Homo sapiens: one gene and its partners. The protein of the gene in region 1 interacts with the protein of each later gene in a pairwise test. Each region holds a gene or a part of one and is shown on either strand. Other genes may lie near its edges.

What was found.
Region 2: the proteins of MLF2 (region 1) and DNAJB6 interact in binary tests that used the Homo sapiens proteins (3 or more experiments, as listed by UniProt).
Region 3: the proteins of MLF2 (region 1) and HSPB8 interact in binary tests that used the Homo sapiens proteins (3 or more experiments, as listed by UniProt).
Region 4: the proteins of MLF2 (region 1) and BAG2 interact in binary tests that used the Homo sapiens proteins (3 or more experiments, as listed by UniProt).

The regions. Positions count from the first base shown.
Region 1 is NC_000012.12:6,750,142-6,758,480, forward strand, and holds the start of MLF2 (myeloid leukemia factor 2), read right to left. Parts: upstream 3,001-8,339; 5' UTR 2,798-3,000; intron 2,776-2,797; exon of another isoform or gene 2,741-2,775; intron 2,222-2,740; 5' UTR 2,194-2,221; coding exon 2,144-2,193; intron 1,914-2,143; coding exon 1,784-1,913; intron 1,536-1,783; coding exon 1,500-1,535; intron 626-1,499; coding exon 572-625; intron 165-571; coding exon 36-164; intron 1-35.
Region 2 is NC_000007.14:157,381,206-157,389,440, forward strand, and holds part of DNAJB6 (dnaJ homolog subfamily B member 6), read left to right. Parts: intron 1-1,040; coding exon 1,041-1,172; intron 1,173-3,661; coding exon 3,662-3,803; intron 3,804-4,335; coding exon 4,336-4,406; coding exon of another isoform or gene 4,407-4,441; exon of another isoform or gene 4,442-5,119; intron 5,120-8,235. UniProt on the Homo sapiens protein: Has a stimulatory effect on the ATPase activity of HSP70 in a dose-dependent and time-dependent manner and hence acts as a co-chaperone of HSP70. Plays an indispensable role in the organization of KRT8/KRT18 filaments.
Region 3 is NC_000012.12:119,188,148-119,195,698, reverse strand, and holds the end of HSPB8 (heat shock protein beta-8), read right to left. Parts: intron 2,001-7,551; coding exon 1,841-2,000; 3' UTR 953-1,840; downstream 1-952. UniProt on the Homo sapiens protein: Involved in the chaperone-assisted selective autophagy (CASA), a crucial process for protein quality control, particularly in mechanical strained cells and tissues such as muscle. Displays temperature-dependent chaperone activity.
Region 4 is NC_000006.12:57,181,554-57,189,788, reverse strand, and holds part of BAG2 (BAG family molecular chaperone regulator 2), read right to left. Parts: intron 7,758-8,235; coding exon 7,648-7,757; intron 6,012-7,647; coding exon 5,599-6,011; 3' UTR 1-5,598. UniProt on the Homo sapiens protein: Co-chaperone for HSP70 and HSC70 chaperone proteins. Acts as a nucleotide-exchange factor (NEF) promoting the release of ADP from the HSP70 and HSC70 proteins thereby triggering client/substrate protein release.

The DNA of each region.
Region 1 (8,339 bases):
TACCTTCTCTGGGACAGGAGGGCTCCCCAACTCACCCCGCCTGGTGCCGAGCGCATCTCTGATGTCTCTTGGTAGACCTTGGGGGCACCATCACCCGTATTGGAGTAGGAGATGACAGTGGAAGATGAGAAGGTCTGGCAATTGCCTCCAGCTGTCATGTGTTCCTGAGGACAGGGTAGGTAGGGGAGGGCTGAATGGGGAGGCATCACCCCTGGTGAAGGGATTTCACCCTTCAGCTGCCTGTTCTAGCCTGTATCTTTCTCACAAAATGCAAGAACTGAAAAAACATCAGGCCTCATCATTACCCTCCCAAATTCCTCTGAGTCCAACCACGAGCAAGAAGGACCTGAAGAGACAGGGCCTTAATTGTATGCTACGTAAGAGAGCTGCTGCCGGCTGCTTCAGGCAGGCATGACAGCAGGTACAGGGTCCCAAGGCTCTCTGGTTCAATTACTTTATCCAGTACTTTACCCTTCACTAGCATACTGTTTCCCTCTTGCCTTAGAGGATGCAAGGTGTTGTCAGCCATCACTGAGAGCAAGGCCGGGGAAGGGTATGGGGCAAGTCTCACCATGTTTCCAATCATGTCATTCATCATCCCAAACATGTCCATGAAACCACCCGACTGGAGGAAAGAGATGGAAAACAGAGTCAGGAAAGCAAAGTCAGTGTTCAGAGTTGATCCTGTTTAGGAACCCACAACCCACATGGCTGCACATTTCCTTTCTCTTCTTCCTTCACATCTAGCAAGTTCTCTTTCTCATTCTGTTAAAATAACCAGAATACTCATATTTCTCCTCCTGTGAACTGCTGACCCCTTCCTCAGTCTCTGTGACTGCTGTGATCCAATTTTCCTTCTCCTGCTTGCTATATTCCCCCCATCTTTAGGAAGCAAGCCAAAGTAATGGATTCTAAACTCTAAAGAGGTAAGGCATGAAATTGTTAAAACCTACCAAAAAATCATCTCTAGTTGGCCCTTTAACTGCACTTCCCTCCTCAAAAGAACAAATTTTGCTAGACAATTACATCTTCCTAATGCGTATGAACTTCTAGGAGTACAACAGTTAATAACATCTTTTCTTTTTTTTTTTTTTGAGATGGAGTCTGGCTCTGTTGCCCAGGCTGGAGGGCAGTGGCGCAGTCTCGGCTCACTGCAATCTCCACCTCCCGGATTCAAGAGTAGCTGGGACTACAGGTGTGTGCCACCATGCCTGGCTTTTTTGGTATTTTTAGTAGAGACGGGGTTTCACCATGTTGGCCAGTCTGGTCTCGAACTTCTGACTGCAAGTGATCACCCATCTCGGCCTCCCAACAAGAGTTTAACACCTTTAACCCACAGGGCTCCTAGTACCCAACAGGCTCAGAGCTTTGTGAATGCCATAAAAAGAGAAGATTCTGGGGTTACTCATGAAACTATTCCTAAGAGGCACATTTGGGAATAATATCTAAGGGTAGAGAGTGTGTCTGAGATGGAAGGACACAGGGAGATAAAGACTCACCATTCCCAGCATCCCAAAGGGGGAGACAGCTCCAGCCTACAGGAACACATGAGGAACAGAAATTAGAGACCACATCCTATCTCTTTACAATCCCAAACCAGGCCCATGGCCTCAATTTTTTTCCATCCTCTCAAAAGGGAGTCACAAAGCCCTTTTTCCTGACCCTTTCCCCAACTCCTAGAGCATTTCACTTGCTCAGTTGGCTGTAGTGCAAGAAAATTAAGTGCTTTCCTAACTAACCTCCAACCTTTCTTTGGGTCTCAGGTGTGTCTCAGCATCATTACCTGCTGCATCCGGCGGCTGGCAGGCCTGGTCCCTGGCATGTTGCCATCTGTGATGCTGAGGAAGGGGCTATATCCAAAGCCACCTGACAACATACGGCTCATATGCTGACGGTGAATAGCAAAGGGATCCCTGTGGAGTGAGCACATAGTATGGATGGCAGAAGCGCCAAACTGTCAATCCCTCCACCACCCTGCAAAAAAATACGCACAGAGCAACAGTGGCACCGATGCCTACTTCCTGCTAGGTAGGAGCTAGGTATCCAGCCAGTTCCAACCATTCCTAGCAATGGGAACCCCGATGTCTGCCTGAACTGCTCAGAGACCTGGAGTGGGAGAGCTTGAGGGGGAGGGAATACTCACATCAGGAACATGGGATCCTCAGGCTCCACGTCCCTCATGAAGCGGAACATCCTGATCTCAGCTCCAGGGGGCTCCACACTGGAAAGATATGGAAGCTCAGATACTTGGAGGTGGCCAGGGTTTTGCACACCCACTCAGTGTGGGGACTCTCAGAGCACTGTCCTTTCCAAATCCTGTAACTGACCCCCTAAACTCCAGGGAGACCCTACTCCAGGTGTTCCACACAACCCTCTAGGGAGGGAAGGGCTCTTCAAACCTCTTTCTCAATTAGGGCCATGGAAAATTTTTCCAACCCTCTCGGTTTTTCCCTCCCCCACTCAGAGCCATCCTCTTCCCAAAGCTCTGGCCGGTAGCATACTCTCCCCTCCTCCCGCCGACGACACCGTTCTAGATGAGAATGCCAAGTGCAGGTCCTCCGCCCCATTAATGACCCCAGTCACCCCGCCCCCTCCTTACACTCAGGCCTCCCCCAGGCGGGCCTCACTAAGCCCCCCGCGCCTGTCTGCGACTCCTCTAGCTCCCGCCTCCCCGCCAGGCGAGCAGGAGAGGTAGGCCTGAGCCTCTCCTCTCCCCACCCCGCATCCCGGGCTCCCAGACCCTGCAGCCCCGTGGGCCCGCTCCCGTCCGGGGCTGCCAGCTCTGCCCGAGCCTCACCAGTGCCCGATTCGGGCTCAGCGGCCCATCCGGCCGGTTTCGCTTCCCGGTACGCTGCAGGGTCAGGGTCGCGGCCCGGAACGTGGGGATTGGTCCGGGCTTGAGCTCCTCGGCCTTCCACGCCGCCTCCTCCCACAGCTGCCACCTCCGTACGGCCCCCTCGGCCAACGGAGCCCGAACCTCGGCCAGGCCCGGGCGGAAGTGACGTCACGATAGACCCGCCCACCCGGGGCCGGGCCGTGGGAGCCCCGCCCCCTGGCGCGGGTGGTGAGATGGCTGGGGCCGAGTCCCAGGGGCGCCGGGGCCATGGGCCAAGCTCAGGGGAGCAGAGCCTGAGGCCGAGAGGGGTCCCCTGGGCACGAAGAAGGGGAGCTCATTAGTAACCTCGATTTGGGTTCTGTGGACTGGAAGAGGCTCCCATAAGGCAGGGGAGGAGAAGGAGAAGAGGAATCCATTCTTCGGGAGGGACCGGGTTGGAGGTTGAACCTGGGGGCGCAGTGCAGCACGTTCTCTCTCCCTCCTCAAGGGGAAACTGGAGGACGAGGGGCAGATGCCCCTTGGGGAGAGGCGGGCGCTCTGTGGGCGACGAGGCGGGGCGGATCCCTGGGGGGAGCTTTAAGCCGACTCTACTGGAGAAGCAGTCTACCCTAGAGGGAGGATGGGCAGTTTTCCTGCGGGGGAGGCGCTTGGGCCTGTCCCCGCTTGAGGAGGAGCGTTCCTGGCAGGGCGGAGTCCCCGGAGTGACGCAGAGGAGGTGAAACTCTCCAGCCCAGATCTAGTTCGGGCTTCAGAAAGTCGGATGGGGCAGAGGATCCAGGTTGGGGGGTTGGCCGCCAGATGGCGCTCCTCGGCCAGGCTGGAACCGGAGGCCCTTGAGAACTCGCGTTGGAGAGGGACCTGGACCCTCCCCCGTTACCCATCTGTGAAGGGTTGGACTGGGGAAAGGCTACAGTTCTGAATCTATTAGTTTAATGCCACTCTCCCCTTCCTTTTACTCTAATTCTTGTGTCCTCAAGAGCTCCCAGTCCTGCACTGACCTTTCTTGGTTGCTTTCTTAGGTCAAAGGTCTAAAGTTTGGGGGAACAAAGGAGTGGAGAGCTCAGTTAACCTGGATCACCCAGGGGAGGAGCTAAAACGGGGCCCAGAAGACCTGCCTCCAAGGCCAGAGACTGATACTTTGACATACTAAATGTCTTGCATAAAATCTGGCTCTGCTGGAGAGAAGGGCCTTCCCCTTTGGGGTCAGGGCATTTGGACTGTCTAGGATGGACTTTAACCAGACTCATCCAAACTCCAGCTTTCCCTGGTTCTTTACTCTGGCTTTTAGCCATATTAGTGCTGTGTGGAGTCTGACCCAATGAGAAAGACTTGTTCCCAGTAATTCCCTGGGGGAGAAAGAGGGGGTCCCTGGTGACTCAGGAAAAGGTGCTAGGAACAGGGCTTCTCACGTTTCTTTGGACTTGATCATTATTAAAGAGGAAAAAACAATAATAGAGACAGGGAGCAGAGATAGATAATTAAGATATAAGCTGACAGACTGGCAAGTCAAAGGAAAACAGACAGAATACAAGTAAATTTGTTTTTCATTGCTATTTCTGGGGGAAGAGACTTAGTAAAATCTTCTGTCTTCCAGATCTCTGCACTTCCCACCATGCAACTTCCCCTTATCCTCTTGCCCCAAATGAAAGCAGTTTGACATGTGATCAAGAGTTGTCCCAGTAAAGGTTCTGTGGCTGAAACTTAACTAAAGAGATCCTATCCATTTTTTTTCTTTTGTCCTCTCCTCCTTCTAAAGCAAGTTCTTTATTGTCCAGCCAATCAACAAATGTTTAAGGCCTGGCGCAGTGGCTCACGCCTGTAATCCCAACACTTTGGGAGGCTGAGGCGGGCACATCACAAGATCAGGAGTTCGAGACCAGCCTGACCAACAAAGTGAAATCCAGTCTCTACTAAAAATACAAAAATTAGCTGGGCGTGGTGGCACATGTCTGTAATCCCAGCTACTCAGGAAGCTGAGGCAGGAGAATCGCTTGAACCCAGGAGATGGAGATTGCAGTGAGCCAAGATTGTGCCACTGCACTCCAGCCTGGGCGACAGTGAGACTCCGTCTCAAAACAACAACTACAACAAAAACGAAAATTAGCCGGGCATGGTAGCAAGCACCTGTAATCCCACAAGTAGGCTGAGGCAGGAGAATCACTTGAGCCTGGGAAGTGGAGGTTGCAGTGAGCCGAGATCACGCCATTGCACTCCAGCCTGGGGGATGGAGCGAGACTCTGTTCCAAAAAAAATAAAAATAAAAATAAAAAGCAAATGTTTAATGAGGCCTGGAACTGTCCTAGGTACATTGTATTAAGCATACATACAAAATATAAGACACGGTCTCTGCCAATTGAAGGCATACAGTCTTGTAGCCACCTTTTTCTTTTTTAGTTACCTGTTATCCGTTTTTTTGTTTTTTTTTTAATTAAATTGTAGAGATGGGGAGTTTCATCATGTTGCCCAGGCTGGTCTCAAACTCCTGAGCTCAAGTGATTCGCCCAAACTTGGCCTCCCAAAGTGCTGGGATTACAGACATGAACCACTGTGCTCAGCCACCTGCTATCCTTTACGTACCGCCTTTAGGTGCCTAGAGTCCTTTCTCTTCTTCCTTCCAAAACTTAAGAATCTGCTGGCCAGGCGCGGTAGCTCACGCCTGTAATCCCAGCACTTTGGGAGGCCGAGGTGGTTGGATCACTTGTGGTCAGGAGTTCGAGACTAGCCTGGCCAACCTGGCCAACATGGCAAAACCCTGTCTCTACTAAAAATACAAAAAAATTAGCCAGGCATAGTGGCACGTGCCTGTACTCCCAGCTACTTGGGAGGCTGAGGCATGAGAATCGCTTGAACCCAGCAGCAGAGGTTGCAATGAGCCGAGATCTTGCCACTGCACTCCAGCCTGGGCGACAGAGCAAGGCTCCGTCTCAATAAAAAAAAGAAAAAAAAAAAAGGAAATTGTTGGCCAGGCACAGTGACTCACACCTGTAATTCCAACACTTTGGGAAGCCAAGGCAGGAGGCTCGTTTGAGCCCTGGAGTTGGAGACCAGCCTGAGCAACATAGTGAGACGTTGTCTCTTCAGTAAAAAAAATTAGCCAGGTGTGGTGGTGTGTGCCTGTAGTCCCAGCTACTTGGGAGGCTGCGGTGGGAGGATTGCTTGAGCCATAATCACACCACTGCACTCCAGCCTGGGAGACAGAGCAAGGCCCTGTCTCTAAAAAAGAAAAAAAGAAAAAAAAAAAACCTCTTGAACAGGTGAGGATGAAAGAGCAAATGCAAGAGCCCATTTTCAGAGTTCTTGGAGACATACCATATAGGCAGTTGTCTACTCCAGGAATTAAAGGGATGTAATTTTGCAAGTAACCAGAGTTTGTGTCTGTCTTCCTTCTCCGGGTCTCTCCCTCTCCTTCATTTCCTTTCCTCTCTTCTCCTTCACTCTCTTCCTCTCTCCCTTCCTCCATCCCTCTTGTCTTTTCCCTCTCTCCCTCCCTCTTTTTTTTTTTTTTTTTTTTGAGACGGAGTCTCACTCTGTCGCCCAGGCTGGAGTGCAGTGGCACGATCTCGGCTCACTGCAAGCTCCGCCTCCCGGGTTCACGCCATTCTCCTACCTCAGCCTCCCGAGTAGCTGGGACTACAGGTGCCCGCACACCTGGCTAATTTTTTTATATTTTTAGTAGAGACAGGGTTTCACCGTGTTAGCCAGGATGGTCTTGATCTCCTGACCTCGTGATCTGCCCGCCTCAGCCTCCCAAAGTGCTGGGATTACAGGCATGAGCCACAGTGCCCGGCCCTTTCTTTCTTTATCTTTCTTTCTCTCTCTCTCTCTTTTTCCTTCCTCCCTCTCCTCTCCTCTTTTTCTTTCTTTCTTTTTCTTTCTTTCTTTTCTTCTCCTTCCTTCCTCTTTTTTTTTTTTTCAGAGTTTTGCTCTTGTTGCCCAGGCTGCAGTGCAAAGGCATGATCTCGGCGCACCACAACCTCCGCCTCCCAGCTTGGGTTCAAGTGATTCTCCTGCCTCAGCCTCCGGAGTAGCTGGGATTACAGGCATGTGCCACCACGCCTGACTAATTTTGCATTTTTAGTAGAGACAGGATTTCTCCATGTTGGTCAGGCTGGTCTCGAACTCCCTACTTCAGGTGATCTGCCCGCCTTGGCCTCCCAAAGTGTTGGGATTACAGGCATGAGCCACTGCACCTGGCCTGCCCTCCCTCCCTTCCTTTTTCTTTTCCTTCCTTCTTTCCTTCCTTTCTTTCTTCCTTCCTTCCTTTCCTCTTTTCTTTTCTCTTTTCTTTCCTTTCTGTCCAGTGAACTGTGGTGAACAGTGTCCCATAGGTAAGATGTAGAAGGGAGAGCAGGCCCTGCCAGGGGTGAGGCTCAATCATAAGGCAGATAAGGATTGTTGGCAAGGAAGAGAAACAAAGTTCCAGCATTCACTGTTCTATCTGATGGAGCCAAAGTCATGAAGTCCTTGAGAGGGTACAGCCGGGCCAGAAAAGGGGTCGTCTCTTCAGATGTGAGGTCATGCCTCTGGAGCAATCCCAGGGCTGTGAGACATTAGAGTGGAGGGAGGGTGGAGGAGTGATGAGGGAATGAGGGGAGACTGAGTTTTTTGCCTGAGCGGCATGAGCGGGTGTGGCTGAGTGTGTGTGGATGTGATGTGCATTTGTGTTGGGGGAGGGAGATAAACTATAAAAAGGAGCGCTAAGGTGCCCCAGGTAGAGAGAGGGGGGAATGCCAACTCAGTGAGAGAGAAAAGTGACTTGAGAGCATTTTTTAAAAGTCACCTTTTCAGCTTTAAAAAAATAAATAAATAAATAAATAAATATATATATATATAGCCAAATATGTACTGAATGCCTACTCTGTGTCAAGTACTGTTCATGGTTCTGGAGATACAGTAATGATAGAAAAATAAAGCAAGGTAGAATGGGGATGGAGAACAGGCAGGCAAGCTGGGAGGCAGGCAGTTGTTGCTTTTGATGTAGGTGACTAGGGAAGACCTCACTGATGAAGTGACATTTAAGCAGAGACCTGAACAAGGTGAGAGAAATAGCTGGGATGAGAGCATTCTGGGCAGAAGTAGCAAGAGCAGGCCAGGTGCAGTGGCTCAAGCCTGTAATCCCAGCACTTTGGGAGGCTGAGGTGGGTGGATCACTTGAATCCAGGAGTTCGAGACCAGCCTGACCAACATGGTGAAACCCTGTCTCTGCTAAAAAATACAAAAATTAGGCTGGGCGTGGTGGCTCACGCCTGTAATCCCAGCACTTTGGGAGGCCAAGGCAGGTGGATCATGAGGTCAGGAGATCGAGACCATCCTGGCTAACACAGTGAAACCCTGTCTCTACTAAAAAATAAAAAAAATAAAAAAATTAGCTGGGTGTGGTGGCGGGCACCTGCAATCCCAGCTACTCAGGAGGCTGAGGCAGGAAAATTGCTTGAACCCGGGAGGCAGAGCTTGCAGTGAGCCGAGATCACACCACTGCACTCCAGCCTGGGCAACAGAGCGA
Region 2 (8,235 bases), on another chromosome or scaffold:
ACATTTGTGACTCAAATGTATCCACTCCCTGCTTTGGTTGCTCTGGCCTGCAAGTAGGCCGTACTAATTCTGTAGTTGGTCCTAGCTTGCCTTTGTCTTTACCTTGCATGCGTTTATGTCTTAATGCACCTATTAGGATTCCTTGCTTTTATCACAGGTTTCCCATTTTTCTGAAAAAATTACAGTAATTATTAACGCAGAACCCAGGTAAATTAAAAAGGTTTGTATGCTTTATGAATTTTTAGTAAGTACTCATTGATTGATAACAGCAACAGAGGAAAACAAAACGGTCAGTTCCGATCTTGATTTCCAGGAGCACTTTGTGTTTCCACTTGGCAGCGTGATGCTTCCTCATGTCGGTGATTTTCTGTTGAGACATCTTCAAGCATCATCTTACGTCTGCTTGTTAACATTTGTTCAGATTTGATTTCAGCTAATCCTTAAAAGTTTTTTGAGACATCAAACTTAGAATAAAAGGAATTTCCTTTGCCGAGATTCATCAGGTATTTACACTTAGCTTACATGGCCACACCATTCCTCGTGTGTGTGTGTGTGTGTGTGTGTGTGTGTGGGCGCGCGCATGTTAGGGTAATCCATTTTTCTGTTTGTTTCTGAATTGCTTTGGAGAAGGCAACTCAGACTCCAAGGAATACAACAGCTGCCGTGTGAAGCTTTTCTCACTTTTCCAGTGGTCGTAGCAGGAACAGCGTCTTGACCTCACATCAGTGACGTGAAAAGAGCTGAGTTTGAAGTGCATATTGGTCCTCCATAAAGAATGTGTGTATGTGCTGTTTTTTTAATTAAGTCTGGTAATTTATTTGATACAATGTATTGTAGTTTTAGTTGAATTAAACTAGTTAGTAAAACTGTTGGTGAGGTAGTGTTTCAGTTACTCTGTAGATAAGCTCTTTTGTTAAAACCTCTTAAGTTTTTTGTTCCTGAATATGTTACAAACATCTATTTTCTCTTACTGTAGCTATCACATGAGGAAAAAAACTTGAAAAAAAGACTTCATAGTGTGTGTTTATGTTTGATTTTAGAAGACCCTTTTGAGGACTTCTTTGGGAATCGAAGGGGTCCCCGAGGAAGCAGAAGCCGAGGGACGGGGTCGTTTTTCTCTGCGTTCAGTGGATTTCCGTCTTTTGGAAGTGGATTTTCTTCTTTTGATACAGGTATTAAATCCCTAGGTTTAATCTCTGTTATCTTAACAGCAGTTAGTACTTATAAAATCATAATACTCTTTTAGTTAGAGTGCTTTAAAATATGTGTATACCTTTCGTAGAATAGCATTGTGGATTTGCCAGCTTTTTTTGGTATACAGGTCTGCGCTTAACCTACATTTTCTCCTAATCTTCCTAAGAATGTCGTGCTTGGAAATCTTCTCCTCTTAATATAATAATCAAGGCCAGAATGTAATGAAATTCTTAGTTAAAAAGGGGCAACATATGTTCTGCATCAGTAGGTGGAAAGTAACGCAGTTGGAAAATCTCACTAACCTTCATGCTGTCTAACCTCCTTTGTAGTTAAAACAAAAGTGCACAAATAGCATCCTAGGAGCATCCCACTGGATGGAATCGAAGGCTGGGCCTTACCACTAGCCCAGGCCAGGCTCACTCACTAGTGAAGTGTCAGCCTCACGCACGTAGCTCTTCATAGTTCACCGATGGAAACAAGCTTGTAGACTGGAGTAACATGAATATGCATATATCATGATATGCCTGTGTGTTTAGCCTGAAGAATCCCACTTTTCTCTGAAGCTCATCCAGTTTCTCTTCACAAAGGAGCTTTTTTTTTTGTTGTGTTTTGTTTTTAAATTTAAAAAGAGTCTCACTTTAGTGAGTGCCACTCTTAGTGTAGTGGCACGGTCTCAGCTCACTGCAGCCTCCCGCCTCCTGGGTTGAAGTGATTCTTGTGCCTCAGCCTCCTGAGTAGCTGGGATCACAGGTGTGCACCAGCAGGCCCAGCTAATTTTTGTATTTTTAATGGAGACAGGGTTTTTGTCGTGTTGGCCAGGCTGGTGTTGAACTGACCTCGGGTGGATCCACCCGTCTTGGCCTCCCAAAGTGCTAGGATTACAGGCATGAGCCACCACTCCTGGCCTGGAGCTGCTGTTTTGATTCTCTCATTTTTATTTTTAAGCCTCCACGATAAGAATTGGGAGAGCTTGTTATATAGGGTTCCTTCTTCATCATGGTCAGAATTTTATTTTCTTTGAACATTGCGCTCATGCCATCTAGGTAAGTAGTGAATTCTGCTCGATTGGACCTCAGTTTTGATGTGCTTTCCCTCAACAGATCCTCTCATTTGATACCATGGAATATGCTGACCACAGGTTAAGAAAGCTAGTTAAAAATACCACGTAAATTGTCCTTTTTAAAAGTAATCAGTGGCTCCTGTATGTGTGTTTGTGTGTGTGTGTGTGTGTGTGTGTGTGTGTGGTGGGGGTGTAAGCCTTCTCCACTTCTGAGGTGCCTTACAAAGTATCACAAGAATAAATACTTAGCGAGGCTTAATTGAGACCAGTGCAGTAGCCACCAGCCACGTGTAGCTCCTGAGCCCTGGAGGCCTGGCTACTCCTAACGGAGATCAGCAGGAGTGTGAAATAGTCATTGGGTTTCAAAGATGGAACATGGGAAGCAGTGTAAAATACCGCAAATGATTTTGATTTTTTGTATTTCCAATTGAAATATTTTGGATATACTGTATTAAATAAAATACTAAAATTAATGTCACTAGTTTCTGCTTTTTAGTGAAATCATTAGAAAAGGTAAACTTAACATACCTGGTTCACATATTTCTTCAGGACACCACCAGCCCTAGACAGTATCTGCGCTTAGATGATTGAATCATGTTCAGAGGTATGCGTCATTTGTGTTAATGGGAGCATTTTGGAAACAGGACAAAAGCTCTAACCAGTAGACCAGCTTTAATATCGAAAAATAGGTTTGCTTTAGTGTGACTTGTGAAAGTTTTTAGTGTCCACACTGCGATAATATCCATAATGTATAATTGAGAATGGTGTTCATGAACTGTAGAACCATAGTTTTTTGAGACGAATACTTGTATTCTTTCTGCAATTATTTTAGTTTTTTAATAATTTAGATTCTTATCCCCTGTGGTCCTGTGGCAAAGAGGAGGGAAGCCGATTAGGTTTGCTGTTCTGTGGTGGTGAGGTCACTCTGTTCCTGTGGGGTAAGAGTGTCCATCACAGTCTGTGGAGTTTACAAGCCACGCCAAAGCAAACAGAGCTTGATACCGAGGCTGCTCTGCTGGTTGGAGCTTAATACTGGTCTCGGTTCCAGAATGTTCACATTAACACAACACGTGCTTCATGGTGCCAAGCAGACCACCCACAAGCAGGGGCTGTCTTTGGCATGTCAGAAAAGCTGCTTGGGTCCCGCGAAGCTCTGCATGAGGAGAGGGGGAGGGGAGAGGCTGCACTCTCGCGTTGCCCTAGAGTCCCCACTCAGGGATCTGAGAGACAGTCTTTCCCCCTGGGCACCCCAGCACTTCAGCTGAGGCCTTGATAGTTGCGTCGTTTATTACTCCTCGGTTCTATGCCTTAACATTAAATATTCTGCTACTGAACTTTCAAACTCTTGTCTTTGCATTACTAGTTGACATATTTCTTTAAGCATTTTTCTTTTCTGTTTTCCTGTAGGATTTACTTCATTTGGGTCACTAGGTCACGGGGGCCTCACTTCATTCTCTTCCACGTCATTTGGTGGTAGTGGCATGGGCAACTTCAAATCGATATCAACTTCAACTAAAATGGTTAATGGCAGAAAAATCACTACAAAGAGGTACTGTGGTATTCTGCATTTTATATTTTTAGTAAGCAGGCGTAACGTTTCACTGGTGCCATGTTGCACGTCTCCCAGAGTGTGAAGTAGAGGTTGTTGTATGCTAAATCTGGCGCCATGAAAATCTTTTGCTCTCCAAATTCATTAATTAAAGCCTTTTCTCTTAAATTTTACTTAACTGTTGAATTATTAGAGGGAATCTTTAATGTAATACAGTGTAATAAGTTTCTGCAGCATTGTTAAAATGGTAAAATGGAAAATCATTAATAGTAAAGCCTTTACTGTTTTATAGCCTCTGCATGTATTTAGCATCCGCCTGTACGGTATTTGAGACACAATTTATTTTGTCAGGTTAATTCTATTTTAGGAAAGGAAGATGTGTTGTTGACAGGTTGGCTTCAGCCATGTTTTTACAGCCTGAAAATTACTTATATTCATGGTGTATTTCAGTAATGTCCTTAAACAACTTAGTTACCCTCACACATGCATTTTCTTTACCAGAAAGGTTTTTAAATGAATTTTTTTCCTACAGAATTGTCGAGAACGGTCAAGAAAGAGTAGAAGTTGAAGAAGATGGCCAGTTAAAGTCCTTAACAATAAATGGTAAGGAGCAGCTGCTGCGCTTGGATAACAAGTAATTCAACGCACGCACTTAACAGAAATGTTAAACTATAACAAGCACCATTTGAGGATTAACAGGAACATTTTTTTGAAGATTTCAAACGAACTCGACTTTCAGTATAATTGTACCTAAAGTATTTATAAACAGCTCATCGGAGCCTCTATTTGTCATAGACTTTTGAGTTGATTGTTGGGACCACATAATAGGACCATTTTTTTTTTGTCTTTAAAATTGTTGTAAATCTCTGTATGCACTTTGCTTTTTTATTAAACGTACTCCAAGGTGAGTCTTGACTCTTTAGTGTAGGACAAGATTGTACACTAACACCAGCATGGACCTGCTTTTCATTGTGTCTGAAATGTGAGCCACGTAGTGTCGGCCTGCTGTGAAGTTAACATTGCCAGGACGATTCTTCTACAGAAATAATTTCAATTTTTTTCAGTATTTAGTAGTGAAAGATATTAATACATTAATGGTAATACATTTCTGGTTTAATATAAATTAAGGATGTTTTCTAGTTGTGCATGAATGCTGGCAACTTAGTAAGTTTTGACAATTGTTTAAATATGTAATGTTAAGCTTAGGTTTAAAAAAGTAAAGCTGGTAAACTGGGTCTTTGTCATTTGCTTTAAAAAAAAAAAAAAAGAAAATAAATGCGAATGTGTTGGTGCATTCTTCCTGAGTGGGATCTGGAGCTTTTTTGTGTCTGTGTATGATTTGTGCCTGGGCTTCTAGTGTCACTTTAATAGCGTTTCGTGCTGTTCATTCAGGTGGATGCCGCACCTCAGTTACATGTAGACATTTTCTTCAGTATATTTGAAGTATATGAAGATTTTCATATTGTAAGTTGTGATTTAGCAATTGATCAAACATTTAATTATGGTAACATTTCTACAGGAGAGGGAAGAAACCATTGTATAATTTTTCACTCTTAAAGTATGTTCTAGTTTGATGTAAGATCACTTACGGATCCGGGCGCGGTAGCTCAACGCCTGTAATCCCAGCACTTTGGGAGGCTGAGGCGGGTGGATCACCTGAGGTCAGGAGTTTGAGACCAGCCTGACCAAGATGGTGAAACCCCTGTCTCTACTAAAAATAGAAAAATTAGCTGGGTGTGGTGGCAGGCGCCTGTAATCCCAGCTACTCTGGAGGCTGAGGCAGAAGAATTGCTTGAACCCGGGAGGTGGACGTTGCAGTGAGCTGAGATCGTGCCATTGCACTCCAGCCTGGGAGACAGAGCAAGCCTTCATCTCAAAAAAAAAAAAAAATCACTTTGGGACAGTCAAGGTCTTTTGTTTCTCAGTTTGTAATATCTTTCATGATTACCATTGGTAACTAGAATCCTAGCTGTAGTGAATATTGAACTAGACTTTGACTGAATTTGAAACTGTTTTGGAACTAAACAGCGTGAAAACCGCTAGAAGGACAGGCGGTTCCCTGACAAACAGCGTAGCGTGTTCCATCCGTGCTGGCTTTGCAGGAGGGCATAGAGATTGCTCGGGATACGCCAGAGCCCTTAAGCAACCTCACGTGCTGTTACTGAAAATAAGTAAAAAATATTTTAAGGAATTTCATAGGAGCTCAAAAAAGCATAGCAACAGTTAAGTAATTGGGGACAGTTGAAGTACAAGAAGAACAACGAGTGATGTGCTTGTCTGTTGTGTCGGAAATAACCCAGCACGCGGCACTTCCTGTCTCTGGATAAGGTAGGTATGCAGCCATGGCACGTGCGGGAAAGCGGGACAGCGCCCTCTAGTGTTGGAAATCCCACTCACAACTAGCATTGTGCGATCATAGAGCGCGCTTTTGTTTATGCCATCAGGACGGGTGGTTTTTTGTTACTAAATAAATTCAAGTAGATACTTGGACTAAGGCGTTTTATATTTTTCATTAGTGGGTGGGATGAGTCAGTGCAGCAGCCTTGAGACATCCAGGGATGTCCAGAAATACCAGGAAAATGAAAAGTCTTTACCTGTAATTCTTAAACTAGGAAGCATTTTGCTATAGCGTTGGTACTACACAATTTTAGAACACATTTGGTTGTTCTAGACTTTGTGGAGTGTTTCATGCAACTCTAGCTGTGAACAGTTTACTCAACATGGTGTTACAGGTAAAATATGTTTGACTCCTAAGGAATCTTTCTTGTGAAAATTTTTTTTTGAGGAGGAGGGAGCATTCATTTGTACTTGGGAAAACTACTGTTTTGTTTGTTTGTTTGTTTGTTTGTTTTTTTGAGACGGAGTCTTGCTCTGTCATCCAGGCTGGAGTGCAGTGGTGTGATCTTGGCTCATTGTAACCTCTGCCTCCCGGGTTCAAGCAGTTCTCCTGCCTCAGCCTCCTGAGTAGCTGGGATTACAGGCACCCACCACCACACTCAGCTAATTTTTGTATTTTTAGTAGAGATGGGATTTCACCATGTTGTCAGGGCTGGTCTGGAACTCTTGACTTCAAGTGATCCATCCACCTTGGCCTCCCAAAGTGCTGGGATTACAGGCGTGAGCCACTGCGCCTGGCTGAGAAAATTACTTTTATTCTGTTCTTCCATTGATAGAAGTGTAATTTTATTAAGTTACTAATAGAATAGAAAGCCTATTTGTTGCTGTCAAATCTTACACCTTTCATTTTTAAACCCCGTTAAGTTTATTCCTAGAGAATTCAGTCTAAGGGTGCATGAGAGTACCTTTGAAAAGTTAGGAAATGGCTGTGAGCATTGATACCATCACTCAAGTAAGTGATGGCTTGGAAGAATAATAGCATTTGATTTAAATTACAGTTTTTGGTAAATTCAACAGTCTCTTTACTTGCTGTAGTGTTGAGCGCCTCTGAAAATAGGAAGCTGAACGCTCCTTAACGGCACGTATCTGGTTGTGCACAGCCCCATGTGGTCCCATCCATTCTGGGGTGTGCTGTCTGCTGTGTTTGGTTTGTGCTCAACTTCCCTGTTTGAGATTCTTTTTTAAGTTTTATTTTTAAAGTCTTTAATTTTTAAAAATACTTCAATAGCTTTTGGGGGGGGGGTAAGTGGTTTTTGGTGACGTAGATGCATTATATAGTGAATTCTGAGATGTTAGTGCTGCTGTCACCCAAGCAGTGTATGTTGTACCCAAAGTGTAGTTTTTTAATCCCTGTTTGGCATCCTTTTGTCTGGAGGGCTCAATAATCTGTATTTTTGTCATCTCCTGTTTTCCTATTCCTTGTAGCTCCCCACCCCGTTGGTTTGATTTGAGTGATGGATTATTCCTTATATTTCTATCCTTTATAAAATTTAAGCTTTTTAGATTCCAAAGATTCCAGGCTTGATTTTGGAAACTCGGGGTTTTAAATAATCTGAAAGATGTCAATCAATAGTGGCATCATGGGCGACTTGTCATTCTTCCTCTTGGAAGTCCTTCAATGAGTAGATTTTAGAAGTGGGTAGAGTTAGTGTCACCATTTGCTAAACTTACCTGTGCACCTAGTGTGCTGAAGTAAATGTTCCTTACAATGTGGAAACGCTTGAGGAACACTGTGGGGTGATTGTCTTTCCAATCAATTTTAATTTCTGTTTATTAATTAGAGCTTGAAAAATGCCTGCTTATCCTGTCTTGATTACCTTCTAGATATCATTTCTTTCCGGGAATACTGATCTTGTTTTAAGCACTATAGAATGAATTAGAAACATTTTTATTTGCAGAGGATTCAACGGTAATAAATAATTGGCATATTATCTCTGTTATTGATTGGCAGCAGTGTTGAAATTTAGCCATTAGCATGTTCAGTGACAGAATGGAGGCAGATGTTGTTATTTCGGAGGTTTTCAAGCACAAAATT
Region 3 (7,551 bases), about 110 Mb from region 1:
CCATCTCCCAGGCACCCCCCAGCAAGGGCTCTGAATTCTAAAAACAGCAAAAACATTCAAATGGTTACATGTGAAATGCTGTCCCTCATCTTTCTGTCTCAAAGATAGCAACTGCCCCTCCCCCAGCTCCCCCCACATCCCCCAAACAATTTCTGTGCCAAAATGAAGAGGAGGCCCCAGGCCATGGGGGGCTCCTGGCCACGAGGGGCTGTTGCGGCGGCGCCAGGGCACAGGGTGGGCGAGACACAGCAGAGGTCCTGGCAGCGCGGCCCAGGTCCCCGGCATCTCCTCCCATGGGTCGCGGTTACTTATACAGGGAGAGCGACTGCATTCGTTTTCCTGACAATGTGGCATCATCTTTTGCTTTCCTTTCCTCTTCCTTCTTCCGGGCAGCCTCCTCCCGCTGTTTCCGGATGATGGCCAGCGGGCCAGGTCAGCCTTGGCTTGCTCTGTCTTCCCGGCCAAGTGCATTTTCATGTAACGCTCTTTTGCCTTCTGCTTCTCAATCTCTTCTCGTTCTCTCCTCGAAAGCTCCTTTGGCCCATCCAGATACAGTTGTGTGACCTTTTTGGTTGTCTGTGCCACCTGGTTGGGGTTCTCGATGTTGAAGAGCCCTTCAACGCCTTTGCGGTTTTGCTGGTAGTCATCTTCTTCATCCTCACTCTCATCTGAGTCTAGAGATTTCTTCTCCTTTTTGGGGTCACCTGCAGCCCCATCTCCACCTTCTTTTTGCTCCTCTTCTTCCCTGGCCTTCTGCTTCTCAGCCTGCAGCTGTACGTCGATCTCCTCAGGGCTCCTATACTGCCTCGCCCAGCCTTTGTGGCCTCCCTTTCTCCCTCCTTTAGGCATCGCGGCTCCGCGCAACATTACTTTAAGCCACAGCATTGCTAACTGATGTTGTATATCTAGGTGGTATTACATTTAGTTCCTCATTAAAAGAACCACACAAGGCTAAGAACGTCAGCTCCTTTATTATTATTATTATTATTATTAATTATTTACTGTTATTTACCCCTAAACAACAGCATAACTCAAATAATAATGACACACACGTCCCGCCCATATACACAATACCACTAGCCTATCTGTCAGGCTATCTGGCCTTTGCTTGGTTCCTGATGGAGCTGTCTGGAGACAGCTCCCTCTGTAAAAATCCCGACTTAAACACAGGGGACAGAAGAAAGGGGGGACCTAGGTCAGATCATAAACTGACAGGCTCCCAGCGTCCTTAGGGAGTGCTAATGTGGAAACTTTGAGAACGTGCTGGACACATCTGGGCAGAGGGCAGAAGGCACTGTTTGTTTTTATGTGGTTGATGGATAAATTCCATATGGGGATATAAGACCTGTATATCACCCATTTTAGGCCAGGCATGTGGAAGCACAGTGGGGTTAGCTACTGGGTTTCATTAACCAAACCATGCGGCATGGTTTGGGAGCCATGGGAATCGGGAGCCCAGAGTAGGAACCTGGGTGATGGGGGAGGTCCCCAGAGAAAAGTAACCCTTGCATTCACTGCAAGTAAGATACAACGTGAAATGTTAAGTCCCCTTTTATGTGTTTTGCAACTATAGAATGTGCAACATTTTCATCAAGATAGAAAAGGTAAAGAAAGCAAAACTAGTATTTTGGCCTAACACAACCAAGCATGATTTGCCAATTGCGCTATCCTGTGGAGAAATCTACCACTACACTATCCAGGGAATCTGTGGTCAGTCCTCACCCCCGCACCCTCTAACATTTTACTTGCACTAAATCTGAGTTCAGCTAAAGTAATGTATCCTGGAATCAGAGAAGCCCTAGGGTTGGGGACAAAACAAGGATGGGCCAGTACTGGCATCTCAGGTACAGGTGACTTCCTGGCTGTCCTGGGGAAGCTCGTTGTTGAAACTGCTCTCTCCAAATGTTGAGTAAGGAGGGACCTGGGGAGCTTCGATGATCAGCAGACCCTCTGGGGAAAGTGAGGCAAATACTGTCACAGGATCCACCTCTGCAGGAAGCCTAGGAGAAACACACGATTTTATTCATTTATTGTTGTTAATATTGCTTAAACATTCTTTTATTCACTTGAGAGGAAATATTTTTGATAAGAGCTTAGGCTTTGGGGACATACAATGTTGGGTTTGAATCCTGGCTCTACCCCTTTCTAGCTGTGTGGTCTTGGGAAGATTATTCAGTTGCTCTGAGCTTGTTTTCTCATCTGCAAAATGAGGATAATAATACTGAACTTGTAGAGTATTTGAACTTCAGAGTCTGAGTATGCTTTGCAAATGGTAAAATGCTGTTTGAACAGTAGTTCTTAACTTAAAAGAGAGCTGTGGCCCACATATTTGGTCCCAGGTTGAAGTCATCACCTTAATACCCACTACTGACCACAATTACTAGCAGAAATGGCACCACTACCATCCCTTTATAGAGCGCAAGTAAGGTGTTATCATAACAGGCAACACATTTTCATCTGACATGTGCTTGCTGGAGAGTGCTTCACTACAAAATGCATTAATGGTGATGCAAGCACTAGGTACCTTGGTGGATAAAAGGGGCCAAGCTGGCCACATGTAGATTTCAGATGGCAACATACTCGATGGTATTCAAAATAAGCCTTGATTTTGTTCATACCCTAAGTATCTCTGATGTGGTTTGGCTGTGTCCACCTAAATCTCATATTGAATTGTAGCTCCCATAATTCCCATACGTTGTGGGAGAGGCCTGATGGGAGATAATTGAATCATGGGTAGGGGGCAGTTTCCTCCATACTGTTCTCATGGTAGGGAATAAGTCTCACGAGATCTGACGGTTTTATAAGATTTTTTGCTTGGTTCTCATTTTCTCTCTTGTCTGCTGCCATGTAAGACGTGCCTTTCACCTTTTGCCATGATTGTGAGGCCTCCCCAGCCATGTGGAACTGTGAGTCCATTAAAACTCTTTTTTTCATATATATATCAATTATGTAGTCTCAGGTATGTCTTTATCAGCAGTGTGAAAACAGACTAATACAATCACTTAGCAGATCATTATTATCTTGTTCTTCCTTTTATTTTTTTGGGACAGAGTCTCACTCTGTCACCTAGGCTGGAGTTCAGTGGCGCGATCTTGGTTCACTGCAAGTTCCGCCTCCCAAGGTTCAAGCAATTCTCCTGCCTCAGCCTCCTGAGTAGTGTGGATTACAGACACCCACCACCATGCCTGGCTAATTTTTGTATTTTTAGTAGAGATGGGGTTTCACCATGTTGGCCAGGCTGGTCTCGAACTCCTGACCTTGTGATCCACCCACCTCAGCCTCCCAAAGTGCTGAGATAACAGGCGTGAGCCACCGAGCCCAGCCAATTATCTTGTTCTTAAAACTCAGTTATAGACAATACTTGGTTGGAGTATTGTAAGAGGATGATTAAGAGGTAAGAATTAATATGCCCATTCTACAGATCACTAAACAGAGACTTGGGGGAAATCAAATGACAAGCTCAACAAGTGAGAAAGCATCGAAGATGGAATTTCTAAACCTAAATCTGGTCCAACTTCTAATAAGGTATTTTTATGATTTTTGGATTGCTTTGGGTGAATGAGACTATTGAGAATTTGGTTTCTTCAACAAACTATTAAAACTGTGAGGACATATTAGTGATCTCATTGGGGTGCCATTATTTTTTTTAACCATGAAATCCATGACCTTCTGAGTACTTTCTATGTGCCAGGTACTTTAGCTGAATCATATCATTTTGGTGTTAACAATAATCCCACCAGGCAGATTCCATTGCTATCCCCATCTTACAGATGAGGAAATTGAGACTCAGAGAAGTGAACTGCTTTGCCCAAGGTTGCTCAGCTGGCAAATGGCAGATAGGAAATGGAATTGGAATCCTGGTCTCCAAACTCAGAGTATCTGACCATGATGCTCTCCTGCCTCCCCCAGCACCAGACATTTGAAAGAAGGACTATGGCAGGAAGGACCGGCAGTTCAATCAAAATCTTTCCACTGATCCCTGCTGGCTCTGCCTATTGTAAATACGAGGGTCTTGATGAAAGAACCAAGGCATGAGGTAAGCCCATTCCTGATCATAGGCAGGACTCCTTCTGGAGGGGCTGGGGAGTTTTTTTTTTTTCTTTCTTTCTTTCTTTTTTTGTGGGTACAACAACCTGTAGCCACATGAGCCGTATCTACCCAGGAGATTCCTTGCCAGATTGGAACCATGGAGATGAACAAGGCTGCTTCTGGGAAGCCCATTTGGAAGAAAAAGAGGGAACTAGAAAGCTGCCAAGTCAAGCTTTTGAAGCGGAGACAAAGTCAAAAGTTTAGACCTCCCTCCCAATGCTGGGGATGGGCTGACTGTTTAACCATGTGCACACCAACCCAGTGCACACCAGGTACAGTGTGACAGGGTGGCTATGGCCTAGAGCATGGGTTTTGCAGGCAGGCTGACGTGCATTCAAATTCTGACTCTTCCTGACCACACAACATGGGGCTGGTGATCTTGACTCTTTGAACCTGTTTCTTTGCAGAAAAAAAGGGGGCAATAATAGTACCCACCTCTTAGGGTGGAGTGAGAATTACGTTGCAGTCTTTGACCTTACATGTTGGCATCTTGACAGCAAGATGGAGTATCATACAAATTGCAGGATCATTGAACCACAGAGTATCAGGGCCCCAAAGGATCTTCCTGATTGTCCATGACAATGCTCTTATATTACTTATGGGGAAACTGAAACTCAGAGAGATAGACAAGTCCAAGGTCTCTAACCAAGTGACTTGTATTTAAACCCATTTGGTGGGAAAGTAATTCCTCTTCAGTTCTCTTTCAGTGCTTCTACTTACATCTGAAGGAATGTCTCTGCTAAGTACTAACATGCCTTTAACGCCTTTAGCCTCTATCACTTGCTACCTTCCCTTTTTAACAATGAGAGAGCTGAGGCCCTTAGGCAGGCAATATTATCTAGTTAGAATTTAACCACAGTTTGCTTTCATTGGATTTATTTCATGATCGCTTTCCTCAGTGAACATTTCAGTGATAAGAATTTAACTTTATCAAAAATGAGATGATCTAAAAGAAAAAAAAACCTTTAGTAAATCATGGTACAGCAATGTAAGCATATAAGGCAAAAAATAGTGAAGATGGGATGTGAATGACGGTATTGCAAATGACTGTAATTTGGTTTCCCCTAACCAAATAGGAAGATCATGGACTTTGAAAGCTGAGACCCAAGACCTCTCCCTCTCCTCCTTATTCAGTCCAAATGGGGCTTTTCACACAGAGATGGATGTGTTGAGATGAATTTCCTTGCCATGGTTAAGGCAAACAGCTGCAGCATCCTGCCTGGGTGGAAATCTCCAAGGATCTCAGCCTGGCTGAAGGAATCTCCCTGTCCTCTAATGACTGGAGTTTTCCCTGGGAGAGGAGGCAACGAGGACTCCTGAGATTGGTCCAGAGGTGTCCCAGACCCCAGTTCGACTCCTAGGTGTCTAGAGTCTGGGCAGAGCCAGGAGCTCCCAGGAGTCCCAGCTGCTGGAGTGTGAGTCCAGCCTTGTGAAGCCTTTTCATAATATTAATTCCCATGGACCAAGCCCTGAGTCTGTATTCCATGCTTAATGCGTTATACACATCCTCTCACTCCCATCACAACCCCTCCATGCAGGGATGTGGGAATGGAAGGTCAGAGCAGTTAAGCAAGTTGCCCCAAGTTACCCACTCACTTTCTCATGGAGCCAGGACTCCCTGCACCCGGAGCTGAGATTCAAAATATTTAACAACTAGTGCAGCTGGGCACTGACCATTCAGAAGGGATGGGTGCATGTCATAGTGATGGAGGAGGGTCCTGGGACCCTTTAGTTGTTGGAAGGTGGAGAGGTTTAGAGGGTCCTGGGGACAAGATCAGAGTGACTGGGGTTGGCTAGGGAGGGCTCAGGGCAATAGCTAGCCAATATTCAGGGGTCCCCATCCCCCGGATCATGGACCGGCACCCATCTGTGGCCTGTTAGGAACCAGGCTTCACATCAGGAGGTGAGCAGCAGTTCAGCCAGCATTACTGCCTGAGCTCCGCCTCCTGTCAGATCAGCAGTGGCATTAGATTCTCATAGGAGCTTGAACCCTGTTGTGAACTGTGCATGCGAGGGATCTAGGTTGCATGCTTCTTATGAGAATCTAATGCCCGATGATCTGAGGTGGAACAGTTTCATTCCCCAGTCCATGGAAAAATTGCCTTCTACGAAACTGGTCCCTGGTGCCAAAAAGGTTGGGGACCACTGAATATTTTAACAACTAGCCCAGCTCAGCAGCTGAGCACCAGCCTGGAGCAATTTCAGGCATTTCTCATCAGGTTACTTCCAGCAAGCTATCTCCCCTAAGGCCTTGGAGCATGTGAAATACACACACACACACACACACACACACACACACACACACACCCCTTTTAAGATGATTAATTCACTTCTTTCTTACACAGTCCCTTTTACAGCTATGCCCTGCTTGTGACTCCACCCTGAGACCTCATTTGAGCCTTGACATCAGCTTCCCCCCACCCCCTGCCTTCCTTCCTCTCCCTCAGCAATGTTTAATCTGCTTGCTAAACCAGGGAGAGGTGTGGGGCACGGAGATGCCAGGCAAGCCAGCAAACACGAAGAACAAATGGTTTGGCGTTTGCCTTATCAGGAAGTGTCCACAGGCTTCCAAGAACTGCAGAGGCTGTGGGAGGGCCAGGGACGGACATGTGGGGGAAGAGACAGGAATGTAGAATCCCAAGCTGGAAGAAGCCTCAGAATTCAGCTAGTGTGATCTCTCCACACACAGAATTTCTTTGCAAAGGCTGATGGAAAAGTTAAGAGTCAACAATAACAATAGTAATAATGAACTCCCACTTATGAGGACCTACGCTGGGCCATGACCTTATGTCACTTTCAGCCAGGAACTCTGCAAGGCTGGAATCAGCATCCCTTTCACAGATGAGGAAACAGCATTCCTTGCCCAAGGACTGAGCATGGAACTCAGAGGTCAGGGATCTATTCTGGGCCCTTCTAAATTCTAGCTGTAAAGACCTTGGGTATGTCCTTTCACCTGTGGGAGACTTAGTTTCCCTGTATTGCAAGGAGGGTCATGTCTCCTCTCCGATGCACACTTTTGCTGCAAAGGCTAAATGCAACGATGGCTTGGAAAAGAGTTTAGGGGCCAGGCGCAGTGGCTCACACCTGTAATCCCAGCACTTTGGGAGGCAGAGGCGGGCAGATCACTTGAAGTCAGGAGATCAAGACCAGGCTGGCCAAACATGGTGAAACCCCGTCTCTACTAAAAATACAAAAATTAGCCAGGCATGGTGGCATGCACCTGTAATCCCAGCTACTTGGGAGATTGAGGCCGGAGAATTGCTTGAACCCAGGAGGCAGAGGTTGCAGTGAGCTGACATCGTGCCACTGCACTCCAGCCTGGGCAACAGAGTGAGACTCCATCTCAAAAAAAAAAAAAAAAAGAGAGAGAGAGAGAGAGAGAGTTTAGGGGCCAGAAACGCACATAGTGGAGTGACGCTGATTGCTGATTAGGGAGAAGGTATGTATGAAGCACCTGGCAGT
Region 4 (8,235 bases), on another chromosome or scaffold:
TATTTTGCAAAATGAGCTTGGGTTTAAAAAGTGCTTTGTGCCAAAAATATCATACCTAATTTTTATAGTGCTTTACTATCAGAATTTATATTGTTTATTATATCTTTTAAAAGCAGTAAGCAGTTTTCATCTGACAGCGTAGATAAAAGAGGAGTATAGGAATTTGAATGCTAGAGCATCTCCCAGGTGAGCCTTATTGCAGATCTTTTTGATATAGTCACCCATAAGCATGGTGAGCTCCTGCTCTCATAAGGTCAGCCAAAGCCCCTTAAGAAGGTACACAGCACATCTGCAGTCATTCAGGAGGTCCTGTGAAGTGTGGTGATGCATCTAACACCTTTTGCTGCTCACTGAGAACCCAGCTTTGAACTTACAAGATTACACTAACCATTTTTAAAGTGCACAAAAATATTATTATTAGTCTTAACTAAAATTACATATTTTATAATGCCCTGCAACTCTAAACCATCCTTTTGTTTACACATTTTTGTATGGTATTTTAAGATTATCAATCACTTCAACATTTCTATAACCTTGTTTGTATAGCACTTTCTCAAGAGCTGTCAGTCCCACATACAGAATCATTTCTTTTACAAAATGATTTAATATGTAATCATGTGTCAGGACATAAATTTTGTCACTTGGGACAGTAGCTTTCCAGCTAAGATAATTGCGTGAACTCTGTTAAAACTGATTATCACTCATCAATGGCTTTATTTTTAACCTATAAATAACCCCTTTCAATATACCTGGTTTTTACAGCATTGCAAAATCTGTAAAAATAACTTTTATTGGAAAATGTCATGAAGTCATTTTTCATTATTTGTACTAAACAATGTTTTATGTACTCCTTTTGTGTTTTATCTTTTGTTTTTCCATCTGTACTCCCCTCATCCTCCTAATGTTGAGAAAATCAAATTTCCTGGGTGTGTCCTTGTTAAGTGATCAAAAGTAAATGTTCTCTTTGCCATTTTAGATGGAAAAATAAAAAAAATTAAAAAGTAAATTTTTGCTTTTCATTATATTGAAATGATCTGGCATTATCTATTTCACAGTAATGTAAAATGCTTATTTTTATGTCACCAGTTGTCACCACTCCCATTGCTGATAGTGACATAGGTTTTGGGGGCAAAATTCAGTTCCTAACAAACAGTGGATACTGCTAATGAGTCATCTTTTCTACTCTCTTCAATTTTCTACTCTCTACTCTCCTCTTTAATTTTTGCACAAAATAATACTTTGCAACAAATAGTCTTTTGTCTTTATTGGCAGAAAAATCACTTGTTATATGTGTTCTAGTTAGTTCTTTTTCATGTTAGCTGTGTGGCTAAAAGCGTGTTACCTTTCTATATTTAAAAAAAGTAATCTCTGAGGATAGTTACAGTTCCTGTAATATAATTTTATGTACCTAGTTTTATCTTTTTTTAAATAAGAACTGAAGAGAGAGCTTTGTTACATATTTGAATTTTTAATTTGCACTGCTGTATTTTAAACCTAACCATAATTAGTCATTTAAAATAATTAAGTAGGCCTGAAAGTCAGCCATGTTAATTTCTCAATTTAATCAATTCTTAAAGCCTTCAAAAATTGACATTTTTTTTCCAAGACCCTTCATTCTCTTAAATAACTTTAATTTTATGAAACCATGTATACTAAAGAAAAACTTTTCCAAGATTCCAGGTGATTGTGCATTTGTGCTCTAATCTACTTTTTTAACATTACGGCTAATCTTTTGCGTAGACATATCGCTGTGGAATAACTGCCATATTTCAGAGTTCCTCAGGTTTCCTTTTCCTTTTCCAGTCTCTGTCTATGAATTAAATAGTATATAGAATGACCCATATAAGGCAATATAGTTAAATAAAACCAGGTTAAATGATTTCCTTTGTATCTGCCCAAAGTTGATAGCACACGTTACTTTTTCAAAATAAAGCTAAAACTACCAAAAAGAGGATGAAAACTTTTTCCTCATTATGGAGTGAAGTTCTAGGTGGTTGCTTTAGAAGTTGGCAGTGCAGTGCTCAGAAGGAACTCTCAATAAATAACATGTACTCCTTGGACCTGTGAGTTTTAGGAAACTGGACCTTTTCTGAAGACCTTAGAATAGGGAGTTGGCCTTAGGACCTAATGTCCCAACTTAGTGTTGGACCCTTTTAATATAAGATATTGTTAATTATTAGCATACTTTTCAAAACCTTTGAAATAGTTACTGCTAACCTGATAAAATGTTCCCATTAATCTATCATTAGTCTGTTTCTCTGAAAACAAAATGCATTGATGAGGTGAAAGCTTGTTCCACATGGCACCTACCTAATGAACAGGACTTACTCAGTTTTTAACTGTTAAGAATGTCACATGTACTATTGTCACTCCTTAGGTTTTCAGCTATAAAACATGTAAGTCTCTCATCATACAGATGAATTCATTTGCTAACAAAATATTTAAAACCCGCAGTAGACTCTGAAATATCCAGTCATCAAACTCCTGGCTAACTGGATGATTTGGCTATAATAATCTTTATTATTATTATTTTCATCTGTCTCTCGAAATATCTACAGTAGGATGTTAGTAAATGGTCTTTTAAAAGCAAAAAATTGGGGATAAAAGGAAAACTGAATTCCTTCTATATTTTTATTACTAATAAATAATGCTTTTGTAAATTTGAATGGAAAACCACTTGTATGTATTGCTATTTGGTTGCAGTTACACTCTGGAGCTTAATTTAAAACACTACTCTAAAAATTTCATGAAGGATGAATTCCAATAATCAGAAAATAAATGCATTTCAAAGCTAAAATTTTGTGTGATATGTATGATTGTATCAACAGTGTGGATCTAAATAGTAAAATATATAATGCAACTTCTTTAAAGATCAAAGCAACCTAAAATTATTTCATATTTCAGATACTCTGCCAATATTTAATACTCTCATTTTATTGAAAGTAGTGCTAACAAGGAATGGCAGGAGGGCTACCCTAAAATTATGTATTATATGCTAGGAATGGTAGAGAATTGAGATACAGCAAAACATACTCTATATCCACTTATAGTCTATATAAAAGACAATAGTTTAAATGAGGGTAAAAATGTGACTCAGGAGATTCATCATCATTTGAAAATAAATTATACTCCCATTCTTATAAATAAAAATACATGTTAAGAACCAACCCATTGGCCAAGCGTGGTGGCTCATGCCTGTAATCCCTGTACTTTGGGAGGCCAAGGCAGGCAGATCACAAGGTCAGGAGTTTGAGACCAGCCTGGCCAATATGGTGAAACCCCATGTCTACTAAAAATACAAAAATTTAGCCGGGCGTGGTGGTGGGCGCCTGTAGTCCCAACTACTAGGGAGGCTGAGGCAGGAGAATCGCTTGAACCCGGGAGGTGGAGGTTGCAGTGAGCTGAGATCACACCACTGCACTCCAGCCTGGGCAACAGAGCAAGACTCCATCTCAGAAAAGAAAAAATGAAACCTCATGAAGTAAATGAAACTATAGAAACTGCCTCCATAGCATATATTCAACACCAAACGTCTACAAAATGTTTGTTCTCTTCCCTTCACAGTCTCTTTTCCCTAACTCATATACTCCATAGTGTTCCTTGCTACAGTGGATATGTCTTCTACTTGTCAGACAGCCTGGGTGACAGAGCAAGACTCCAAAACAAAAAACAAAAAAACAAAAAACCACACTGGAGATTCCCTGCCCTTTAGATGTGGCTCTAGGTACAGAATGCTGGAGACACTGTAAACCAGGGACCCCAAGCAGCTTGGAAATGTGGATCATAGCTCTTCAAGTCTGTGATCAGAAATCAATGACCTCCATTAAAAACTCCATTGCAAAAAAATGGGAAAAATAATGCTAAGAATACCAAGGTCAAGGAGGCAGAGCCAGAATAATTTGTGTAGAAAAAGTCCTGGACTGATGTGGAAGCCATGGGAAGCAGGGAGCAGTAGTATTTCCCAGAGTGGAAGGGATTTACGGATGCTGACAATACTTGAGAACCTGAAGAAAACATGACTATCCATTTCTTAATTTTCAAAAAGCTGGTCAAGAAAAAAATGATGCACACAAAAAATCATCTCACAGTCTGATGACAGCAAATCAGTCTGCTAACAAACCAAGTGGCTCTGCCATAGATAGAATTAATGTTTCCCATGAAATGCAAAGATTTAAATAAGGCAGAGTTGGAGCTGGCAAAGGAAGTAACATGAATGTCTTCAGATTGTAACTGCTTTTTATAAAGAGACTAACTTGGCATTTTTGTAGAGAAAATGAAGTTTGATATTGCTTGCATTGAGAGATATATACATACATAAAGTCAGTTTGGATCTTGATTTGGTTTTTCAGTGTGAAGAATACCTACATTCAAATAAAAATTGATGTGTTCATTTCAAAATAGTATCCAGGGAAGTTGTTGTGGTTTTTGTATATCAATAGGACTAGTTACTTTGAACAAATAAGTGTTCTCTAGTTGCTTCACACTTTATCAGATAAAAGAAGAATCAACACACTGGTCAACCTTTTTAGTAAACAAAATGCAAACTAGGTATTAATGCTCAGTGCTGGAAATATTTCAGTGAAATAGCTATATTTTAATTACTGAAAAAAGTATAAATTGCTGTAACCTTTATACAAAAAAAGTTTAATATGTGTGAGGCCATGAAAACGTCTATATCCTTTGACCCAATATAATTCACTGCTGGGCCTTTATACAGAGAAAAACAAAAATGAAAGAAGGAAAAAGTCCTGTGTACAAAAATATGTTGCAGTAATAGCAACAAGTTGGAAACAACCTAAATGTCCATAAAAGAGGAATGGATAAAGATATAACTACACAAAATAGAGCTCATTAAGTTGACAATTAAGCAGACTTTATATCAGCATCTAACTTTTTTAAAAAAAGGCAAGTTACAATATAGGAATTTTAGAGAATTGATGCATTTGAGAAAAGATGAAGCAGATAGATATATAATTGTTCACAGTGGTAAATTATAGGTGGTTTTCTCACATTTTATGTCAGTTTCTTGTATATCAAAAAATACATTCATATTATGAGACACAGGAATCTTTACATCCAAAATAATTTGATACAGATGCCTTAACATTGCTGAATGAGACAACTTTGGAAAGATTCTTGTTTTGTGATTCCTTTTTACCCTCTAAGCACAGTGCTTTGTTAACACTGTGTGTGTAGTAAATGTGTGTGCTGCTTAAGGTAAAGAATTTCTAGTAAACTAAATGCCCAAGGTGACTGCGTGATTCCATGCCAGACAGGAAAAAGCAGTCATGCTTTTTGCCCCTAGCTGAACGTTTGTTTTCCCCACAAACTATGTATTCATCCACAGAATAGTGAAATATGCTAGATCCTAGTACAAGACAAGAATTCAATCTAAAAAATCTCTAGATAGATAATTAAAATATTGCTAGTTTTGTTATTCACAAAACTGAAGATACTTGATGGAATATTTTCCTCATCTGAAACAACTATCAGTGTCAACTAAGTGGTTATACCTAACAAAGAACTAGTTATCAATTAAAATAGTATTTTATCATTTTTACACCTTGTGTATTGTGTAAATGCTCTTAGGTTTGAAGACTAATTGAATCTGCTTTCAGCATTTTGTTGCAGAGTTTTGGAACCAGCTCCTTTAGAATGCTCTAATAGCTTGATGGCCTTGTCAGAGTTTTCAATATTTCTAAGCAGAGTCTCTAATCTTCTCTTAATTTTCTTCTGATCTTCAAGAGCACAGCCAATTACTATGGATTGAAACTTCTGATCAACTGGCCCATGTGGCACCTCAGATGAACATGCACTGTAGAGCGACATTAAATGACTCTTGGCATTTCCCAAATCATCCAGAAACTTATTGACCACCTCATCAATAATCCTTGTGGCATGCTTTAGGGATTCTTGCTGCTGGGGGTTTCTAATTGTTTCTACTGACACTTCAACGGTGAGAGTTCTTCCCATCAAACGGTTTGCAGTCAGATTTAATTCTTCTCTTTCTCCTAAAAATCAATATGAGATGTAAACTTATCTGTGTCAAAAACATTAAGGCATTTGTTTGTGACTAAATTTATTATTTTCTTTACCTCTGCCATGAAATTTTTTTAGAGATAAAAGCTGAAACTATAGCATGTAAGATTAACTGATGAAATGTATTAGATTACAGAAAGAGGTTGTAGAATACCACTTCCTGACAATCTGCATATATGGGATACCAGATGACTTCTCAAATTGGCATGTCTGCAAAAGTTTGGGTAGGTATGCATTTGTAACTGGGATGGAGATCAAGTCTTAACACTGTGAGCAGTAAGCACATATAGGGTTTATGCTGGGTAGAGCTCCAGAGATCAGATGTCCCAGATCTCTCCAGAACGACATGTGCATTTATCAGAATACAATGCCCCAAATTTTGGTTGAGAAAATGTAGCCACGATAGAAGATAAGCTGTCTTCTGTCGTCAATACTAGGCACTGACTTCATCCTTCTCCAGATAGAAGCAGGACAGTGGTCTAAAGTCTTGGCCAGCACGAGGAGCTCTATCAACATTTCATTATTTATATGAGAAAGTCAGCAAGCTCCTGCTTCTGTAACTTCCTAATTCATTGATCTTTGGGCAGGATAGCGTAGAGACTAGATCATGGCCTACCTATAGATGTGTAACAGTTTTGATCTGGATTTAGGTTGCTTACTTACCTCACCAGCCACTTGGCCCAGTACCATGTGGCCTGTGTGGCACCAAAGGAGCCCAAGTAGGAAGTCCAGTGCCAATAAAAGAAAATCAGAAGTGACCTATTCCTATTTCATGTTCTTCACATGAAAATGACAGCACAGGTTAGGCAGATGTCACATGCCTGTAATCCCAGCACTTTGGGAGGCTGAGGCAGGCGGATCACCTGAGGTCAGGAGTTTGAGACCAGCTTGGCCAACATGGTGAAACCCTGTCTTTACTAAAAATATAAAAATTAGCCAGGCGTGGTGGCACGTGCCTGTAATCCCAGCTACTCGGGAGGCTGAGGCAGGAGAATCGCTTCAACCCAGGAGGCAGAGGTTGCAGTGAGCCAAGATCGCGCCATTGCACTCCAGCCTGGGTGACGAGTAAAACTCCATCTCAAAAAAAGAAAAAAGAAAATGACAGCACATTTTTACATTCATGCCTTTTATTGGTCCTACAAGTTTCCTCATTTTCTCTGCATTTTGTCCCTTCTCTTTATGTTGTACCTCAATTCATCTTTTTTTTTTTTTTTTTTTTGGTCTCTACTTCTCTGCTTCCACTCTCTCACCCTCTTCCTCTGCTTTTTTAATCTCTTGCAGTCCAGTAACTTGTGAGGAACTGAAGTTAGGACTGTGAACCTGGGATAAAACACATGGCCTTACTGCTTGGGGCCAGCTTTTCTGAGCTTGCAGGCTTTTTCCTATCTCTCCTAGCCAGGGGCTTGGGGTAGAGAGCATGCTGGAAGAAATCTCTGAGTAAGTGGCTGCTGTAATGAACTGACAGCTGCAGCTGCTCTCTGTGGCTCACATTAAATGCTGTGGCCTGGTGTACGCATACCAAAAGTCAAGCAAAAATTGACCCACACTTATCATAAACTCTTTAAAGGAGTGTAAAAGATGAGCCCCTTCTGTGGAGATGGCTCTCACCGTCACTGATCTGCCTCATGTCCTGGCTATTTTGGATACTGTGGATCATTTCCAGAAGGATTTCTTTCTCTTGCTCAACAGCAGTTGCTGCTTCTCTCAAAGCTTCAACCCTATAGAAATTGGGAAAACAAAACGGTTATTGTATGCAGGATGTTCTTCCTATTAATTTTCTTTATCTCTCATTCAACCCAAATCAAGTTTAAAGATCACCAAACTTTTCAAAAATTCTTCATTTCTGCTTTAAAATTCTTTCATTTTTCTATACACTTGCCTTTCTCCCATTTTCCTCCCAGCTCATAAGGCAATCATTCTTTCGTGTTTATCTAATTAATACTATTTGTTTTTTACAAGATCTGTATTATTTGTATATTTTGAATTTATATCTCATTCTGTTTTTATTTTTTCACTTAGCATCCAGGTTGCTAGATTTTTGTTTGTTTTTTGTTTTTGAGACAGTCTTGCTTTGTCACCCAGGTTGGAGCACAGTGGCACAATCTCACCGCAGCCTCCACCTCCCGCTTTCAAGTGATTCTCGTGCCTCAGCCTCCAGGCCCGGCTAATTTCTGTAGTTTTAGTAGAGACGGGGTT